2 separate regions of the Homo sapiens genome follow, and region 2 is linked to region 1. Evidence: fine-mapped expression QTL. A gene starts in region 1. The other region holds a variant in brackets. All regions are shown on one strand. Distances are from middle to middle.

Region 1 (11,221 bases):
TCCCACCTCAGCCTCCTGAGTAGCTGGGACTATAGCTGCACACCATCATGCCTGGCCCAAAATTCTTTTTTTTTTTTTTGGAGACAGAGTTTCACTTTATCACCCAGGCTGGAGTGCAGTGGCACGATCTCAGCTCACTGCAGCCTTGACCTCCCCCAGTTCAAGCAATCCTCCAGCTTCACCCTCCCGAGTAGCTGGGATTACAGACTTCAGGCACATACCACCATGCCTGGCTAATTTTTGTATTTTTTGTAGAGACGGCGTTTCACCATGTTGCCCAGGCTGGTCTCAAACTCTCGGGCTCAAGCAGTCCTCCCACCTCAGCTTCCCAAAGGGCTGGGATTACAGGTGTGAGCCACCACGCCCAGACCCCAAATTCTTTCAAAGACCTTCAAGGCCCTAGAAAGTCGAGCCCCCTGTCTTTCTACCCTCACCTGCTGTTAGGCTCCTCCTCATGCTCCAGTCTAGCCTCCTTACTATTTCCTGAATAGACCAGGAATGTTCTTACCACAAGGCCTTTGCATTTGATGTTTCCTCTGCCTAGTAACTTTCTCTCCCCAAATAGCCACATAGCTCTTTCCCTTACCCTCTTCAGATCTCTGCTCAAATATCACTTTCTCATGAAGCCTGCTCTGACCACCCTATTTTAAATCACAACTCCACCCTCACTCCTCACTTTCCCTGCTTTATTTTTCTCCATAACACTTATCGCCATTCAGCATTCTACTTGCCTTTTTCAATGCCTGTCTCTTTGCACCAAGAACAGTGCCTGACAGGTAGTAGCTACTCGATAAATTATTAGAGGAAGGATTATACAAAGGAATGCAGGAAGAATCCAAGTTCAGGAACCAAAGAGAACTGACTCAAACTACTTAGTTTTCCAATCTTGTGAAAACTGAAATTTGAAAGACTTAGAACAGCTCTGGCTGTGACCTGAAATGTGTGCAAAGGATACGACTTTCGATAATGTCTCTCAATATCCTGCAACCATTCCAACATGTCAGCCACAGAGGGGCTCACTGCTGAAGGCTGCAGGACAGCATCAATGCCAACTGTGTCTGCGTGTTGCTCATAGATCTGAAACACTCGCTCCACATGGCTGCTGACCATGTCTCGCACCTTGAGGAGGATGGCTCTGCAAGAAAGAGTCTGACATTAGGCAATATCATGAGACATGTATAAAGGAAGGTTTCTCAATTTTGGCACTACTGATATTTTGGACTACATGATTCTCTGTTGTGAAGGGCTGCCCTGTACATTGTAGGACGTGTAGGAGCATGCCTGGCCCCTACCCACTAAATGACAGGTGTAAACTATACCTATACCCTCCATAAGCCATAACAACCAATAATGCCTCTAGATGATGCCAAATGTCCCCTCATAGAAAAACCATCTCCAATTGAGACCACTGGTCTAAGGAGATTAGTGACAGTGTCTTGGAGGTACGGGTGGCTCAAGAATCAAGAAAGGGGCTGGGTGCAGAGGCTGTTGCCTGTAATCCCAGCTTTGGGAGGCTGAGCGGGGTGGATCACCTGAGGTCAGGAGTTTGAGACCAGCCAATGTCCCAAAACCCCGTCTCTACTAAATATACAAAAATTAGCCAGGTGTGGTGGTGCACACCTGTAGACCCAGCTACTCGGGAGGCACGAGAATCACTTGAACCCAGAGGCAGAGGTTGCAGTGAGCCAAGTTCGCGTCACTGCACTTCAACCTGGGTGACAGAGCGAGACTCCGTCTCAAAAGTGTGTGTGTGTGTGTGTGTGTGTGTGTGTGTGTGTGTGTGTGTGTGTGTGTATAGTTTTTGTTTTTGTTTTTTGTTTTTTTATTGAGATGGAGTTTCGTTCTTGTCGCCCAGGCTGGAGTGCAATGGTGCGATCTTGGCTCACCACAACCTCTGGCTCCCGGGTTCAAGTGATTCTCCTGCCTCAGCCTCCTGAGTAGCTGGGATTACAGGCATGCGCCACCACACCCGGCTAATTTTGTATTTTTTTTTCAGTAGAGACGGGGTTTCTCCATGTTGGTCAGGCTGGTCTCGAACTCCCGACCTCAGGTGATCCACCTACCTCGGCCTCCCAAAGTGTTAGGATTACAGGCATGAGCCACCGTGCCCAGCTAATATATATTTTTTTTTAATTAAAACATTTAAAAAAAAAAACAGGTGCAGTGGCATGCCTGTAATCCCAGTAGTTTGGGAGGGCAAGGCCAGAGGACAGCTTGAAGCCAGGAATTTGAGACCAGCCTGGGCAATATGGCAAGACTATCTCCACAAAAAATTTTAAAAATTAGCTAGGTATGGTGGCATGCTCTTGGAATCCCAGCTACTCAGGAGGCTGGCAGGAGGAGTTAGAGGCTACAGTAAGCTATGATCATACCGCTGCACTTCAGCCTGGGCAACAGGGTGAGACTGTCTCTAAAAATAAAATAAAAATAAATAAAAGACAAAATATTAAGTAAAGCACTCATAGGTACTCACAGCACTCCTGGGTTCAAATGATCCTCTTGTCCTTAGCCTCTCAAAGTGCTGGGATTACAGGAGTGAGGCACCGTACCTGGCCTCATCTTTTTTTTGTTTTGCTTTCCTTTTCATGGAGAATGGGATCTCACTATGTTGCCCAGGCTGGTCTCAAACTTCTAGGCTCAAGCGATCCTCCTGCCTCAGCCTCCCTAAGTGCTGGGATTACAGGCTGAGCTGCCATACCCAGCTGATCTCATCTCTTACCAGGCCTCTGCTCCTGTCATACTTTTCTCTCTTTTTTTGAGACAGAGTCTTGCTCTGTCACCCAGGCTGGAGTGCAGTGGGACAGTCTTGGCTCACTGCAACCTCTGCCTCCCAGGTCCAAGAGATTCTCCTGCCTCAGCCTCCCCTTTAGCTGGGACTACAGGTGTGTGCCACGACAGCCAGTTAACTTTTTTTATTTTTAGTAGAGATGGTGTTTCACCATGTTGGCCAGGCTGGTCTCGAACTCCTGACCTCAAGTGATCTGCCTCCCAAAGTGCTGGGATTACAGCCATAAGCCACCGTGCCGGGCCAGTCATACTATTCTCTATGCACACTACTCATACCCACGTCTTGACTCTGTTTACATCTTTTCAACCATTAGGTTTTTAATATCACTTCCTCCCCAGAAACTTCCCCACTCCACACAAGCCGTACTTATCAATATCTTAGGACATCCCACAATTTAATTCACTGATTGTTTATTTCTTCTACTCAACTAAGAACAGGAACTAAATCTGGTTCATTTTTATATTCTTGGCACCTTGTGCTTGGCATCCCACAAGGTGCCTAATGAACGTATTTTGTACAAATAAATAAAAGGAAAGTCCTCATCTGTGACAGTTTCCTATTAGTCTATGACAGACTCTATATACTGGAACTTTCTTTTGTTCCAGTTCAAGGAAAGGCCACACATGCCCTGTCTCCCCTCTGTCCTCAATAACCTGTAACTCTCAGCCTGGGCAACATAGTGAGACCCTATCTCTACAAAAAATTTTAAAATTAGCTGGGCATGGAAGTGCACGCTTGTTGTCCCAGGTACTTGGGGGGCTGAGGTGGGAGGATCGCTTGAACCAGGGAAATCGAGGCTACAATGAGCTGTGATTGTGCCACTGCACTCCAGCCTGAGTGACAGAGCAAGACCCTGTCTCAAAAAAAAAAAAAAAAAAAAATCTGTAACGCAGGCACTGGGTCTGACAACAAGCATATCAGAACTTGGAGACGTGCTACTCCTGGGCACAGAGACACCAATCTACAGCAGAACAAAGTGGTGATTAAGAGCTCTAGCCTTTGTGTCAGGCACACTTGAGTTAGAATCCCAGCTCTACCCTTTTCTAGCTGCGTCACCATGGGCAATCTGCTTAAGCTTCAGTTTCCTACCTGCATAGAATTAAGTGCAGTTAAGTCACAGATATGTTGAAGAGACTTTATAACGTAATATACATAAACCCCTTAGCTCTAGCACCTACTAAGTTTACACAGCTCCTCACTGCCTTTTACCAAAGAAAACTATAGGGCAGAGCTAATAGGCTTTCTCCGCTCCTTTTCTCTTCTTCTTTTGTGACTTCTACTAAGCCCACCACTGCCATGCCTAGTCTCTGACAAAGAAAATGCCAGAAAATGGCTTTCTGACCGAGGTCCCACTGCCCCAGATGAAGTAAGGAAGGTTGAGATACCTCCACATGCCACGCTTTCAAGGAGAAAAACACCTTCTGGACTGACACTAGCTACATATAAAACACCTCGTTTTAAAATCCTTCCACCAAGAAACAGCACTAGGGAGCTGCTTACAGCCTTTCCCCTAGCTTGTCCAGGACGATGTCACCAGCCACCAGCTGCTTACGCCTCAGCCGCTCTTTTAAATCTGGGAAGGCCCGAAGCGCCGGCACATCCTCAAACCGCAGGTTCTGTGCGGCCTGCAGCTGTTCCGCCAGGTTGCTGAGGGAGGACAGGAGGGGCTGGCAGTCCCGCAGGGCACTCTGCCACAGGCCCTGCTGCTCCTCCACCACGGGGAAGCACTTCTTCAGCGCCTCCTGCACGGCAAGCAGAGGCCGGTCTTGAGTCATCTTCTGCTGAAAAAGATAAAAACAGAAAATAACCACGTTGGGGTGCCAAGTCAGTCGGGGAGGCACTGGGTCGAGGGTGGGCGTCATCTCTGTTATCGTGTTCAGACAGGAGTTGTCTCACCTCCAGAAGCAGGGTTTTTTTTTTGTTTTTTTTTCGAGACGGAGTCTCACTGTCGCCCAGGCTGGAGTGCAGTGGCGCTATCTCGGCTCACTGCAACCTCCGCATCCCGGGTTCAAGCAATTCTCCTGCCTCAGCCTCCCGAGTAGCTGGGAATACAGGTGCCCGCCAACACGCCTGGCTAATTTTTGTATTTTTAGTAGACGGGGTTCCTGACCTCAGGTGATCCGCCCGCCTCGGTCTTCCAAAGTGCTGGGATTACAGGCGTGAGCCACCGCGCCCGGCCTGCCTCAGCTTTCTGAAGGAGACCCTGGTTTCCCCTCGGGAAGGGTAACCTGGATAGGGCAGTCTCCTGCTTCAGAGGATTCCTGGCGTCCAAGCGCCGTCTCTTCTCTGACATACAGTCCTGTCTCCCCTGCCCGAGGCTGCCGGTCGCCTTCCTGAAAAAGCGGAAAAACTTAAAAGTCCAGACAGCCAAAGCGTGAGAACCCTCCAGGGACTGCACCACGCGCCCACAGTCTCTCTGCGCATGCTCACACGCGACCTCCCCACAAAGCTACTCCGCGGGCCTGCCTGGCTACTGAGTCGCGAAAATATATCGTAGTGCCGCAATGACTTCTGGGTACTGTAGTCCAACATGTGGACTGGCCACTCGGCTTGAAGCTTCCTTGGGATTGGATGTTGGGACCGTCCAAACACGGCGACTTCTCATTTGTCAGCCTGCGGCAGTTTAAATTGGGTGGCGGTGGTGGCATGTCCTGTTAGCTGTGGAGTCTTTTCCTCTTATCTTGCGCCTCCGGTTGTGCCTTAATGACACTTTTGACATTGTGTATCACAACCAACTGGCAAAAACTAGTAAATCACGGGCTCCTGACGTGGCAGCTCTGGCTAAAATGCAGGTGGACGTCCTAGGTGCCCAGGGAGTTCGGGCTCACTGGGGAGTAGGGTGAAGGAAACCCTGAAACCGAGAGGCTGGAAGCCCGACTTGCGCAGCATAAAAACACCTGCAGGGGGAAAGCCTACATGAGGTACGGGTTGTCATCCCGTCTCATCTTGGCCATCTGACTGATGGAGATCCTCAGGCACCCAGCAGACTGGGGTGTCACCCCCACTACCCACTGCCCAGGGCTGACCTCGGGCGGAAGAGCGACATTCAAATATTTGTTGCATATGGAGCAACAGACCAGGGTGGAAGAGAGAGAAAGGACTTTCCAGGAAGGTCCAGGCTTGCCAGGACTTCTATGCTTGGACTGCTCTGTCCCCAAGCTCGCTGGTGCCCATCAGGAGCCTGCTTGGCACCTTTGCTTATTTCTTCGATTGTTCCTCAACTCAGAGGGGGAGAGGCAAGATTATCACTCCCATAGCCTATAACATGCACGCTTAAACACAACCCCTCTGACATGGCTTCAGACCGCATCCACAGGTGAAAAGCACCAAATCCAAACAATCAGGCCACAAACCCGTCAAGAGCTCGCCGGTCTGGCCGTCCAGTCGCCGCCCGCCTTGAGACTCAGCCTGAGCTACAGCTTCGAAACTAGCCTCTAGCCTTCTGGGTCTCAGCACAACTCTTGAGCAATCCAACCCTGTGGCCGTGGGCAGATACCAAGATGCACAGTTAGCACCTCCGACAGGACCGCGGCTCGGCGGGGCTCGCCGTCTACACGCCCATTCCCAGGCCCACGGCCACGACACCCAGAGCTGCCTCCTGCCCTGGGCTCCCTGGAGCCTGGTGGCCGCGGCTCATGCTGCAGTCACCGTGTGGCCAGCTGCCAAGCGCCACTACTTGCACCTGAAGTCGCAGCCCCGCGCTGCGCACCCAGTCGAGGCGCCAACACGCGAACTGGGCGGGAGTGGCCGGCCCGCGGGGGAGCGAGGAACGACAGGGTTCCCCCCACTCGCTGCCCAGACTGGCCGCGGGATAGCGCGCCCCCCCCAAAGCCTGCACCCCTGCCCTGCTCCTCTATCATTCCGTCCCCCTTGCTCTGTCAAACCCTGCCGGGGCTGCTCTGTCTCTGCCGACCCGCCACTTGCCCGAAGTTCGGCCTGAGGAGCTTGGGGCCCTGAGGAGCGCCGACGTAGGCAGCCAGCCAGTCAATCAGTCAGAGGGTCACGGCGGCCCCTCGGCTACTCAGTGGCAGCCAGGCCAGAAAGAAGCAGCCGCCAACCCTGGAGCAGAATCCTACAGCCGACCTGACCTAGTAGGCCCCCAGCCCTCCAGAGCTTGGGGTATTGCAGAGCCGCCACAAGGCCTGCCGGGAGTAGTAGTTTGTATAGTTCGCAGCCGGCCAGGGCGGAGCCGGGTGGGTTGGTGGGGAGGGCGGGGAAACAAGCCTGGACCACAACTCCCAGGAGTACCCGCGACGGCGGCGGCCTCGCTGTCGCACTCAGGCTATAGGGGGCGCATTGGGCGGAAGACCCTGGGCCGGCAGGAACTTGCTTGTGATTGGATGTTGTGGGACGGCGGCTTCTCATTCGTCAGCCTGTGACTGTGGAGTTTGAATTGGGTGGCGGTTGACTGTAGAGCCGCTCTCTCTCACTGGCACAGCGAGGTTTTGCTCAGCCCTTGTCTCGGGACCGCAGGTACGTGCCTGGCGACTTCTTCGGGTGGTCCCCGTCCGCCCTCCTCGTCCCTACCCAGTTTCTTGCTTCCCTGCCCCATCTCCGCCGCTCCCCGCAGCCTCCGCCGAGCGCCATGGCTCCTAGGAAGGGCAGTAGTCGGGTGGCCAAGACCAACTCCTTACGGAGGCGGAAGCTCGCCTCCTTTCTGAAAGACTTCGACCGTGAAGGTAAGGGGCCAGGCCGTCGCGGCCTCCTGGGGCGGTCGCGGGATGCTGGCGGGTGGGGACACGAGCTGCACAGATTCGCCCGCCCGTGACCCGTGTCCTGTCGGCTCTGCCCTCCCGCAGTGGAAATACGAATCAAGCAAATTGAGTCAGACAGGCAGAACCTCCTCAAGGAGGTGGATAACCTCTACAACATCGAGATCCTGCGGCTCCCCAAGGCTCTGCGCGAGATGAACTGGCTTGACTACTTCGGTAAGAGCTGGAGAGCTTCCCTGGGCGGAGGCCAGGAGCCCCTTGGGGTTAGGTGACACCCTTCAGAAAGGGCTCGCTCAGATGTCACCTTTTAATGAGATCTGACATGACCACTTATGGAAAATTGCAGACCCTTTCACTCTCTGTCTCACTTCCCTACTTCATTTTTCTCTATGAAAAATGGGGGGGTGGTTGGGGGGCGGCGGGCGGGGCGGTCTCTGTCGGACAACTCAGCTCTGCTGTTTACAGGTCCAAAACAGCTGTAGTGAATGGGCATGGATGGGCTGTATTCCAATAAAATTTTAGTTATGGATACACTGAAATGTGAATTTCACATAATTTTCACACATCAGGAAATTTATTTAATTTTTTTTAAACAGAGTCTCACTCTGTCACCCAGGCTGGAGTGCAGTGCAGTGCAGTGGTGCGATCCCTGCTCACTGCAACCTCCACCTTCTGGGTTCAAGTGATTCTCCTGCCTCAGCCTCTGGAGTGGCTGGGATTACGGTCGCCTGCCACCATGCCCCGCTGATTTTTGTATTTTCAGTAGAGACGGGGTTTCACCATGTTGGCCAGGCTGGTCTCGAACTCCTGACCTCAAGTGATCCACCTACATAGGCCTCCCAAAGTGCTGGGATTACAGGAGTCAGCCACTGCGCCCGGCCAGAAAATAGTATTTTTAAAAATATATGTATATTTTACCCATTTAAAAATGAATGAATAAATGACATGGTTAGTTAACCAGAGCTCAGATAGAAGAATAACCCGAAGCAGCTCCTTCTGCAGCTTATGGAAATTGCTAACCTAAAAATGGGCGCATCAGGCTGGGCGTGGTGGCTCACGCCTGTAATCCCAGCACTTTGGGAGGCTGAGGCGGGCAGATGACCTGAGGTCAGGAGTTCGAGACCAGCCTGACCAACATGGAGAAACCCTGTCTCTACTAAAAATACAAAAAAGTTAGCCGGGCGTGGTGGCGCATACCTCTAATCCCAGCTACTCTGGAGGCTGAGGCAGGACAATCGCTTGAACCTGGGAGGCAGAGGTTGCGGTGAGCTGAGAGCACGCCATTGCACTCCAGCCTGGGCAACAAGAGTGAAACTCCGTCTCAAAAAAAAAGACACATCAGTTTTCCTGGCCAGAGAAAAATCCCAGCCTGTTTCTGCACTCCCTTATTAAATGTCCGGAGAAATGCAGGAGGCTGTACTTTTCTGCTGGGTTGCCCTTTTCTGTTTTCCTTATTATTAACTATCCAGCATGTAGTCTCCTTCCTGGATAGAAATGCATGGTCTGCTCACATATTAGACATTGAATGATCCTTTTGACTTGCCCTTTTATTTATTAAGCCATTCATTTGCTTATTTCTCCAAATACTGAGCATGTGTCAGTCACAGTGCTAGGTGCTAAAGATGCACTAGGGAATAAAACAGACATTGTCTCTGCCTTCAGGAACATACAGATTAGTAGAAAAGAGCTATTAGAAAAATCCACATACAATTATGTAATTAAAAGTATAGGTACTACAAAGGAGATAGAATAGAGTAGTGGTCAGTGAGCATATTGTGCTTTCTATGCCAGATGGGCATTGTACCAAGTGTTTTACATACATTAACTAATTTTTCTTCATAACTAATAATATCCCTATTTTTCAAAATGACAAGATTAAGGCACAGAGAAATTGGACACTTTGCTCAAGGCCTCATAAGCTAGTTAGTGGGATAGTCTGTTTGAACCCAGGTATTCTGGTTTCATAGCCTGAGATCTTAACTGTTTTACAAGATACTATGAGAGTTTCTAGCAGGAGGTTCTAACCTAACTTTTTATTCTACATGTAAATCTCACAAAGACCTTTTCATTCAACACGTTTACTGTACATCTATTGACTGCTAGATTTTTGCCAGAAGCAAAGGATGTCATCTCTGGAATTCAGTCCAAGGCAGGGATGGACATTTAAACAGCTTTGAGTAGTTATTGGGTATAATGAGGGTGAGCAACTAACTCTACACTTTGCAGCAAACTGCTGAGATAGAAAAATAAGCAGGCTGGGCACAGTGGCTCACCTGGAATTCCAGCACTTTGGGAGGCCAAGGCAGGTGGATTACTTGAGCCCAGGAATTTGAGACCAGCCTGGGCAACATAACAAGACCATATCTTTAAGCTTTAAAAAAAATAATTAAAAATAAATTTTTAAAAAAGAAAAATAAGCAGAGGGCAGGGCATAGGGTGGGGATTCATGCCTATAATCCTAGCACTTTGGGAGGCCAAGGCAGGAGTATCACTTGACCCCAGGAGTTCAAAACCAGCCTGGGCAACATAGCAGGAGACCACATCTCTACTTAAAAAAAAAAAAAAAAAAAAAAAAGACAACCTGGACAACTTGGCGAAACCCTATCTCTACAAAAAAACACAAAAATTAGCCGAATGTGGTGGCGCATGCCTGTAGTCCCAGCTACTTGGGAGGCCAAGGTGGGAGGATCAGTTGAGCCCAGGAGACAGCCAAGGAGGCGCCACTCCACTCCAGCTTGGGTGACAGAGCAAGACTCTGTCTCAAAAATAAATAAAATTTAAAATATATTTTTTAAAAAGAAAAATAAGCAGAATTTTTGGGGTGATGTTTGAGCTGAGTTTTGAAGGATGAGTTAGAAATTTGTTAAGTACGGAGGTGAATTTCAGGCAGAGGAAATACAAAGTACCATGGCAACAAGTCATGAGAGTCAGTGGCACATTTGGGATATAACTTGGAGAAAGAATAGATTAGATGGTGAAGGTCCTTGAAGGTTAGACCAAGGGCTGGACCAGTTTTAGAAAGATAAATGGTACTATTAGGCAAGATGATTTATTGTTAAAATGTAATAGTAACTACAACGTTCTTTTTAAAGCCCTTGGAGGAAACAAACAGGCCCTGGAAGAGGCGGCAACAGTAAGTGACCTTTCCTATTTTCCAGCCAGTGGTTACTTAAGTCTAGTCCAGTCCCCAGATCCAACTAATAGATGCTTACTGTGGAAGAGGTTTCATAAAGGGACATCATCTGTTTGTGTCAACTGAAAAATTAGAGTTGGACCAGACACTGTATACATGAGACCCAGATAGTTCTGAGCCCTACAGAAGGTGGCAGTTCTGTTTTTGACCAATTTCTTGCAGTCCTTTGTTCTGAACTCTACAGCGGAAGTAGAAAGCCTCAAGCCCAAGTTCCTTTAAGCGCCTGAGTCATTACACTATGCATTGGCCTGCTAGATGATAAAGGTGTTTCATCATGTCGTACTGTAGAAGCAGTGCTTTTGCTTGGGATGCTCAGTATTCCCCAACCCCTCTCATCTCCTTCCTCCCAGCATCAGTGCCAGGATTGAAGGCAGTAAGATGGGGATGCAAAATAGAGCATTTAAAGCTGCACTGTCCAGTGTAGTAGCCACTGGGCATATGTAGCTATTTCAGTTAATTACAATTAATAAAATTAAAGAATTCATTTCCTCAGACATACTAGCCACATTTTACATGTTCAATACCTAC
Region 2 (8,000 bases), 30 kb after region 1:
GCCTTCCTGCCACCCTACGAAAGCTCTGGCATACTGGGCCCCACCATTCCCGGGGGCCCTTGTGGATAAGGAACTCCACGGTGGGCTCAGCACAACCACTTCTGCCAGGGCTCTTCAAAGTCAGAGCAGGGAGGGGCTCCATGGAAGGCTGGGTAGTGCCCAAGGCACGGAGCTGGCTGGAGGGGAGTCGCCTCTAGAGTCCCCAAGGGCTGTACAGGGAAGTGGTGGTGCCATAGGGCAGGACCAAGGACTCTCTCCCCAGAGCCAGCCTTACCCCTGGATTGGGTTCTGACCTCAGCTCTGCTCCTGACTCCTCACTTGGCCTCAGTTTCCCCCATCTGTACACTGGGGGTTAGACCAGCCTGTTTGAGAGAGAGGACCCATCTCTGAGTCTCCTCTTCACCCTCCCCATGGCTGGAGAGAAAAGCTCTTGGGTCCCTGGGGAGATAACATGGCCCTTTATGCTTTTCCCAGATGTCCTGGCCACTAAGTTCATAAAAGGAATGCACACGAGGGCCTCATGGGGCCCCAGGGAGCACCAGGGCCTCTCATGGCCCGGCCTGGCCAGGACTTTTGGCCTCACCCTGAACTGTCAGCCCAAGGCAGGGGGACACAGAAACCAGATCCTGAGTCTAGGGCTCTTGGGTATCAGCCCCTGAGCTCAGCACCATCTTTGCCTGCCTGAGCCTTGGCCAGTGTCCAGTCAGCCCCTGCCAAGGCACAGGGAGCTGAGGTGGATGCACCTCTGGCCCAGCCCCCGACGCCTGAGCCACCAGGCAGCTGCAGTCACTGCCAGGTAGAAGAAGACCCCCCCAGGACCCACGCTGTCTGACTGGTCAATGGGTCTGTGGGAAAAGGGAACACCCCACGGGGTAGGCCCCAGCCCCCAGTGGGTACAAATGGCAGTAGGGCATGAGCCAGGGCAATCTCAACCCACTGTCTTCCCTCCCATCCCTGCCCCAGCTTTTCTCTGAGACCCCGAATTTCCTCCTGCTGTTATCTCAGGGGTCCTCCCTAGGGATTTGAACCTCTTTTCAGGGGCACTGAGTTAGCCAAGGCGTTCAGACTCGTGAAAATGGGAGGGGCAGGCAGTGAAAGCGGGGAAGCTGTGGCCCCACCAGATCTGGGCCCAAGCAGAGGAAGAGAGCGCTCCCTCCCACACTGCTGGAGCGCAGCTTGCCACGGTCCTTGGGCAGGGCTGGGGGACTGGACCCCCACCGGAGTCCTGCCTTGGAAGAATGGGGTCCACTCACACCTGCACCCCCTGGCCCTGCAGCTGGAGCACTCGTGCCTGCAGGGCGCTGATCCCGCTGAGGAGGGCCTCTCGATGTTCAGCCAAAGAGATGCCTAGGCTCACCAGGTCCCTGAAACAAAGGCTGGTCACACTCGGCTGGCTTGTCCCCAACTTCTGCTCCTCCCATGAAGGCCCTCCACTCTCCCTCCGCTTCTCTGGACAGGTTGGGACTCCCCAGTATAGGCAGGGGCAGGGCCTGTGGAATCCCCCAGCCCCGGCCTTGACCTTGGTGCCTTGGACTCACTGGGCAGTCATCTCGGCCACGGCCTCCAGGCTCCCATAGCCAGCAGCCGCGAAGCTGTCCTTGTAGCGGCACAGGTCCAGGGCCTCCAGCCACGCGCCCACAGAGCCAAAGGAGGGGAAGGTGGAGAAGGCACGGTCCGCTAGTGGGGTGGGAGGCCTGCGGGTCAGAGGAGCTGTGCTCAACCGACAGCTGGGATCTGGGCCCACACCTGGTGGTCTCCCGGGGAGAGGCCAGCTGAGGATGGACAGGAGAAGGGGAGGGTAACCGGGCCCCAGGGCTGGATCTGGCTCACATGAGCACTGTGCATTCGTGAAGAAGCGAGGGCTTCAGGTTCTTCAGGCAGGTGGAGGCAGAGCCAGCGCCAGCTAAAGGTATTGGCGTATCCGGAACAGTCTGGGGTAGGACACGCCTAGGACTGGTTGGTGACTCATATTGGGAACAACGAATATTAATTTCACATATTTGATTCATTGGAACTACAAATGTGTTAGGGCTATTACCACATCTATTTCTCCAGTCAAAGGTCATTGTACCCGGGGATGTGGGCAAAATCCAGGAGAAGCAGAAGTGACCAGGAGGATGTGCAGTGAGGTGGGCCTGGGCAGGCAGGCAGGCTACAGCCCTCTGGGGCAATGGGGTGAACAATTGCTCTTGGACAGGTGGGGTGGTGGAGGCGGTGGGTTTGCACTTGCAACATGCAGGGAGGCCCTCCACGGACAGGTGAGAGGCTGGCTGTCCCATGTGGGAACGTACCTGGGACAGGTAGTCAGGGCACACTTGGGGGGCTCTGGGTCCTGCACCATCTTGCTCAGGATGCTGTGGATCTGGGAGAACCTGGGCCGCTCACCTGGGTCCTTCTGCCAGCAGTCGAGCATTAGTCGGTGCAGAAGGTTAGGACAGTTCCTGGGGGGTGGCAGCCGGAAGCCATCCTCCACAGCCTTGATCACCTGGGCCACAGGGGTGGGGAGCAGAGAGGAGGCTCTGGGTTTCCCCAGCATATGGTGTGTGCACACACACATGCACACACACAGACACAGACACACACACACACATGCGCACACACAGACACAGACACACACACACACACCCAAGGAAGCCTGGGGCAGTGGCCAGGCAGAACCAGAAGCAAGCAGACAGAGAAGAGGGGCCTGAGGCAGGAAGATTGAGGGCCAACGGGCAGAGGTCAGGAAGCTGGGGCCTGAGCTGAGAGGGTCAGAAGGCATGCAGCTGGAGCCACGGGTTACTCACGTCTTGGCCAGACATGTCCCAGTAAGGCCGCTCCCCAAAGGCCATCACCTCCCACATGATGATGCCGAAGCTCCACACGTCACTGGCAGAGCTGAAGTGGCCAAACTGAAGTGTCTCGGGAGCGGCCCATAGCGCTGGGCTCCGGCCACTCTGTAGGGGCAGGCAGGTCAGGGGCAAGGAGGAACTGGGTGACACGCAGGTTTCCCCACCCCACTGAGCCCCAGATCCAGCCTGCATGTCATCCTCCCAGGCAACCCCCAACTCCAGCTTCACATCTGGGAAAGACAGAAAAGCTGACCTCAAGGTGGGGTTCACTCGCATTTATGCCAAGACCAACTGGGTGGAGGGGCAGGGAAAGGAGTAGAAGTGGGGAGTTAAGGGCTCCAGGGCAGCTTGGTGGGAACCAGAAGGCACAGGCAGGCTTGGCTGGGGGCGCCCTCACCATAGTGGTGTAGACAGCCTCTGATCGGTCCCGGGGGCCCCGCCCGAAGCCAGAGATCTTGCAGACAAGGTCGCTGCTGACCAGCACATGGCGAGCTGCCAGGCCCCGGTGAACGTAGCCCATCTCTGACAGATACTTCATGGCTGATGCCAGCCCAGGCAGCAACCCCATCAGTTGCCCAGCCACCAGCTGCCCCTCGTGCCGCTGTGGAGGGAGAAGACTGAGGCCAGGGCTGTGCGCTTGGATCCCCTGGTGTTGTGTGACACCAGGGCGGTCACCTAGCTCTCGCCAGGCTTTAGTTCACCCTGTGACCACAGGTCAGCCCGGCCAGTGGGGATGATGCCAATTCCAAGCCCTACCAAAGAGAAAAGTGAGGGACCCCTGCCCGCTTTACAGAATAAAGTGGTCATTGGCAGCCCCAGGGCCACTCACCCTGAGGAAGCCGTCCAGGGCCCCATGGCTCATGTACTCGGTGACAATCATCAAGGTGCTTCCTGTGCCCAGGGATGGGAACACACATGCTAAGTTGTCCACTCCACTCCGCACGCACACAAGTTTCCCCCCCAGGGTCCCAGACTGGGCCTCGAGAGCCAGAACCAGCACCAAGCTCCCTAATCTCGCCATCCTCCTGCCCAGCCCAGGGTCCTCTATGCCAAGGAACAAAAGAGGAGACATCTGTAGGTGAACAAAGTCCAAGGTCATGAGCTGCAACAAGCTTGCTAAGAAAGATCACTCTTTCTAGGAGTGATATTCTAGGGGACCTATCACAGGTCAGAAAGGTCATCCTGGCCAGGCGCGGTGGTTCACGCCTGTAATCCCAGCACTTTGGGAGGCCGAGGCAGGTGGATCACGAGGTCAGGAGATCAAGACCATCCTGGCTAACATGGTGAAACCCCGTCTCTACTAAAAAAAAAAAAAAACAAAAAAATTAGCCGGGCCTGGTGGCAGGCACCTGTAGTCCCAGCTGCTCGGGAGGCTGAGGCAGGAGAATGGCATGATCCCAGGAGGCAGAGCTTGCAGTGAGCCGAGATCTCACCACTGCACTCTAGCCTGGGCAACAGAGCGAGACTCCATCTCAAAAAAAAAAAAAAAGAAAGAAAGAAAGAAAAGAAAGGTCATTCTGAGCCAGAGTGGCCGCTCCAGGAGAAGGGCCGCCTTGAGTCAGTGAAAGCTGAGGTCCCTGGCTGAAGCTCCCTCCCATAGCTGAGGGAAGGACCTGGAGAGGCAGGGGCACTCCAAACTCCCACACCATCATTTCCACCCCCCATACCCGTGGGCTGGGCAGCAGGAAGGGAGCACCGGGCCCTACCTCGGGTAACAACGCCCTCCAGCCGCACGATGTGGCTATGGTCAAACTGGCCCAGCGTGAGGGCCTCGGCCAGGAAGCCGAGCCTCTGTGAGTCGGAGGCGCTGTCCCTCAGCAT[A/G]TGCACGGCTACGAGCAGCTCCTGGCGACCGGGGAGCTGCAAGCAGCCACAGCACAGCTCCCCAAACCGCCCTGTGGGGAAACAGCACCTCAGATACCGCCAGAGGCCACTGCCCTGGCTGAGCTGGGCAGGCTGAGCCGAGGAGAAAGTGACTCTGACCAGCCTGGCCAACATGGCGAAACCCAGTCTCTACTAAAAATACAAAAATTAACCAGACAAGGTGGCACATGCCTGTAATCCCAGCTACTTGAGAAGCTGAGGCAGGAAAATCACTTGAACCCAGGAGGCAGAGGTTTCAGTGAGCTGAGATTGTGCCACTGCACTTCAGACTGGGTGACAGAGCAAGACTCGGTCTCAAAAAAAAAAGTGACTCCAGATCATGGACTGTTTCCAGCTTAAATCCTGGTAAACTGAGTACCAGCAGTGTGACCTCGAATTCCATCTCTTTCCTTTTCTTGGCCTGTCTCCTCTGTGAAATGGGGATTCCTCTCTGCCTTCCTCAGTGGGGGGAGGTTTCCAAGCCTTAAAGAAAGGACAGGGCATATGCCAGCACGCCGACTGCCATCAAACCCCATGTGACCCAGGATGGATGACAATGACATCTATTCTTCCACCCTGCCCCTTTCCGGCTTCTGTCCAGCGGGTCTGGAGACAGTGTCAGGGGATAATGTCAGGCTCCCAGTGAAAGCAGCTACCGTCTCTGAGCACAGGAGGCTGAGGATTTGTAGTCAGGAAGAAAGGCTAGCAGAAGACTGGCCCTTAGAGAGCAAGCGCCGACAGCCAGGCCCTGTGAGGAGTGCTGGGAGTTCCCCACATTAGCCCCCAGAAGGCAGATATCATGCCCATTTCTCAGATGAGAAACTGAGGCTCTGAGCAAAACAGGGCCATGACCCTGATCATGCAGCGGGTCAGTGGGAGAGCCAGGACTAGAACTCAGTTATGTCTGGCCCCTAAGCTTGCAAAGGCCCCTCCCCACTGCCCCATGAAGGCCTGGGACTAAACTGCCAGTGGCAGTGTGCAGAGGTCTGACCTTGAGGACCAGGAGAGGGTCACAGACCCTTCTGCCATCCTCTTCCCTATAATCAGGCAAGCCAGGGACTTTCTGGGTGGAGGGTGGGCTTGGTGTGGAGGCAGGGCTTCCAGACACGAGCAGAGACCTGGGTGGAGGTGGGCTTCAGGATAGAGGTGTGGACAGAGTAGGGGCGGGGCCTATAGAGTGGGTGAGGCTTCCAGATGGGGACAAGGCTTCCTGGGCGCCCAGCTTGCCTCCTCCAAGGCTCCTCTCCAGCGTGACGCTTTTCGCATCCAGTTCCTTGGCGAACAGATGCACAGCCTGCAGCAGGTCCCCACAGCTCTGGGGGTCCAGGAATGTGCGACGTGTTGGGACTTTGACTGGGAGAGAAAGAGATGAGCCTGAGGAATGGGGCCTCCACCACTGGGGCTGACAAGCGGGCTCATGCAGTGTAGCAAGGCAGAGGGCTGAGGAGTGAGGCAGGGTGGAGCCCGCCCCTCCCCAGCCAGGCCCAGCCAACTCACAGTGGAAATACAGCTCCTCTTCATCATGGGCATCCCCTCCTCCTTTGCCATAGCTGCAGGGCCTGGCAGGGAGTTCAGGGTCATTCTTTCAGCCAGGCCACCCCGGCCCTTCCCATTACAGAGCACTGAGGGCAGCACCTCTTTGTCCCTTCAAAAGACAAGGCCTGTGCCCTGGGGGAGGGAACTTCTTGTCCAGCTGGTTTAAAAGCTTCTCTGTGGTTTGACGACCTCCCCATGGCACAGATACAACCGTAGCCCTAGACCAAACCGTCACCACCACCACCATCCCTAGCTACTTTCACATGGTGAAAATTATTGCAACTCCAGAGGCACCCAATCCACATCCTGGCTGCAGGCCCCCAGCTGCCCCCGCATGCGGTTTTGTGAAAGTGTGAATAAGGCAAGCGGATCCAGCACTCGGGGGCAGCTTCTGGTCTGGTCAGGAAAACAAACATGGAGAGTTAGCCACAAGCCCACTCACCAGTGCTGGCAAAGGAGAAAGGTGCTGTACTGTTGGGACACGGGACAGACAGGCCTGACCTGATCCAAGGTCATTGTGGAGGGCTTCCTGAGACAGAGGCAGCCACGGGCCAAAGGACTGCATCACAGTCAACAAAGCCACAGGCCGGTACTTGGGGCCCCTAGGGGCAGGGCCTTGCTGGCCAAGATAAAGACTTTGGCTTTTATTCTGGGAGCAGAGGAGAGCCCCTGTGGGGTTGAAGCAGAGGAGTGCAATGATTTGATTTCTACTTTAGAAAGAGCTCCAGTTGCAGAGTGGAAGCTGCCACGGGTGTCACCACAGGAGAGGAGCTGGCAGTGGTTCTAGCTATGGGGTCAACATGGGCATGGAGAGAGGCAGAGGACTCGAGTGACATGAAGGTGACAGGGGCCACAGGGCTGAGAGGTTGTTGGATGGCAGAAAGGAAGAGGGAGAAGTTGCCCACAGTTTATGGTGGTGCCATTTACTGGGATGAGGAGACAAAAAGTTCACATTTAGACATCTGAGTTTGCAGGCCTGGGGGATAAGCAGGGAAGATAAGACGGGCGTTCGACGTGTGTGTGTGTGTCTGGAGCTTGGAAGAGAGGCCTGCTCTGCAGATACAAATCAGGAGCAATGAGCATGGCCCAGGGAGAGGATGGAGTCTGAGAAGAGGGACTAGGAATAAGTCTGAGAAACCCCAACATCTAGGCTAGCGGAAGGAAGCACCAAGGACAGTACAAAAGAATCGCCAGAGGAACAGAAGGAGAGCAGAGGGAAACTGGGGCAGGGTATCACAGGGACCAAGGACAGAGAAAGTAGAGGGGATGGTAGAGAGAAATCACATAAAGGTACAAGGATGAGAGACCAAGGGAGGAGTTTCCGAAGTTTTCACAACAGAGATGATCACATGTAGATACAGATGGGAAGGAGGAGCTAGGCTGTCACACAGGGGGAAGCGGCCACCGCAGGGTGTTGACAGCCTGGGCTCGGAACCTGACTGCAGGGACCTGCTTCCCAGCATCTCCGCTCGGTAGCTGTGGGACTGGGTGGCTCCATTTTCTCTTTAATAAAATCAGGATAAAGATAGGCCTGCCAGACAGCAGCATGTCAGCTTACCAAGCCTCCACACATGTTCACTGTTATGGGGGGCAGAGGGGAACATTAGGAGTAATAGTGGGCTCCCAAGATGGCAAAAGGGTGGGGTTCAGCCATAGGTGGAAGGACTGATCCTGGCTGGGAGGATCACCTCCTCTAGAGAAAAGGGGGTGAGGATGGGTGCAGAAGCAGGCAGGTTTGTAGGTTTGGTGGTGAGTAGTCCAGGGGCCAGTGAT

Which allele goes with the higher level. Alleles are on the strand shown, and positions count from the first base shown. SD is a standard deviation of normalised expression in the study named.
As copies of G replace A in region 2, the expression in lymphoblastoid cells of the gene that starts at base 5,212 in region 1 goes up (small effect, 0.30 SD a copy in GTEx).

What was found. PIP is the estimated chance that this variant, and not a neighbour inherited with it, causes the effect. A credible set is the group of variants that fine-mapping cannot tell apart.
Region 2: its variant is the best candidate, but not a certain one, in a credible set for the expression of AIRIM in lymphoblastoid cells (GTEx, PIP 0.76).

Annotation. Positions count from the first base shown.
Region 1 is chr1:37,685,318-37,696,538 of GRCh38, forward strand. AIRIM (AFG2 interacting ribosome maturation factor) reads right to left here and starts at 5,212. Exons shown (of 5, transcript NM_001350770.2): 1 at 4,685-5,212; 2 at 4,289-4,566; 3 at 956-1,135. The coding sequence starts at 4,563. It overlaps CDCA8 (cell division cycle associated 8), which reads left to right and starts at 7,199. Exons shown (of 10, transcript NM_001256875.2): 1 at 7,199-7,467; 2 at 7,588-7,716; 3 at 10,593-10,633. The coding sequence starts at 7,374. RefSeq lists enhancers at 4,365-4,474, 4,545-4,604, 5,185-5,374, 5,940-6,450, 6,451-6,960 and 3 more and silencers at 6,253-6,312, 6,333-6,502.
Region 2 is chr1:37,717,123-37,725,122 of GRCh38, forward strand. It overlaps EPHA10 (EPH receptor A10), which reads right to left. Exons shown (of 17, transcript NM_001099439.2): 9 at 6,189-6,250; 10 at 5,919-6,044; 11 at 4,538-4,723; 12 at 3,661-3,722; 13 at 3,229-3,432; 14 at 2,787-2,936; 15 at 2,292-2,485; 16 at 1,539-1,694; 17 at 1-1,364. The coding sequence ends at 1,250. Among named protein-coding and RNA genes, the nearest start is that of CDCA8, 29 kb to the left of the region's middle. The variant A/G (reference allele first, on the strand shown) is at 4,653.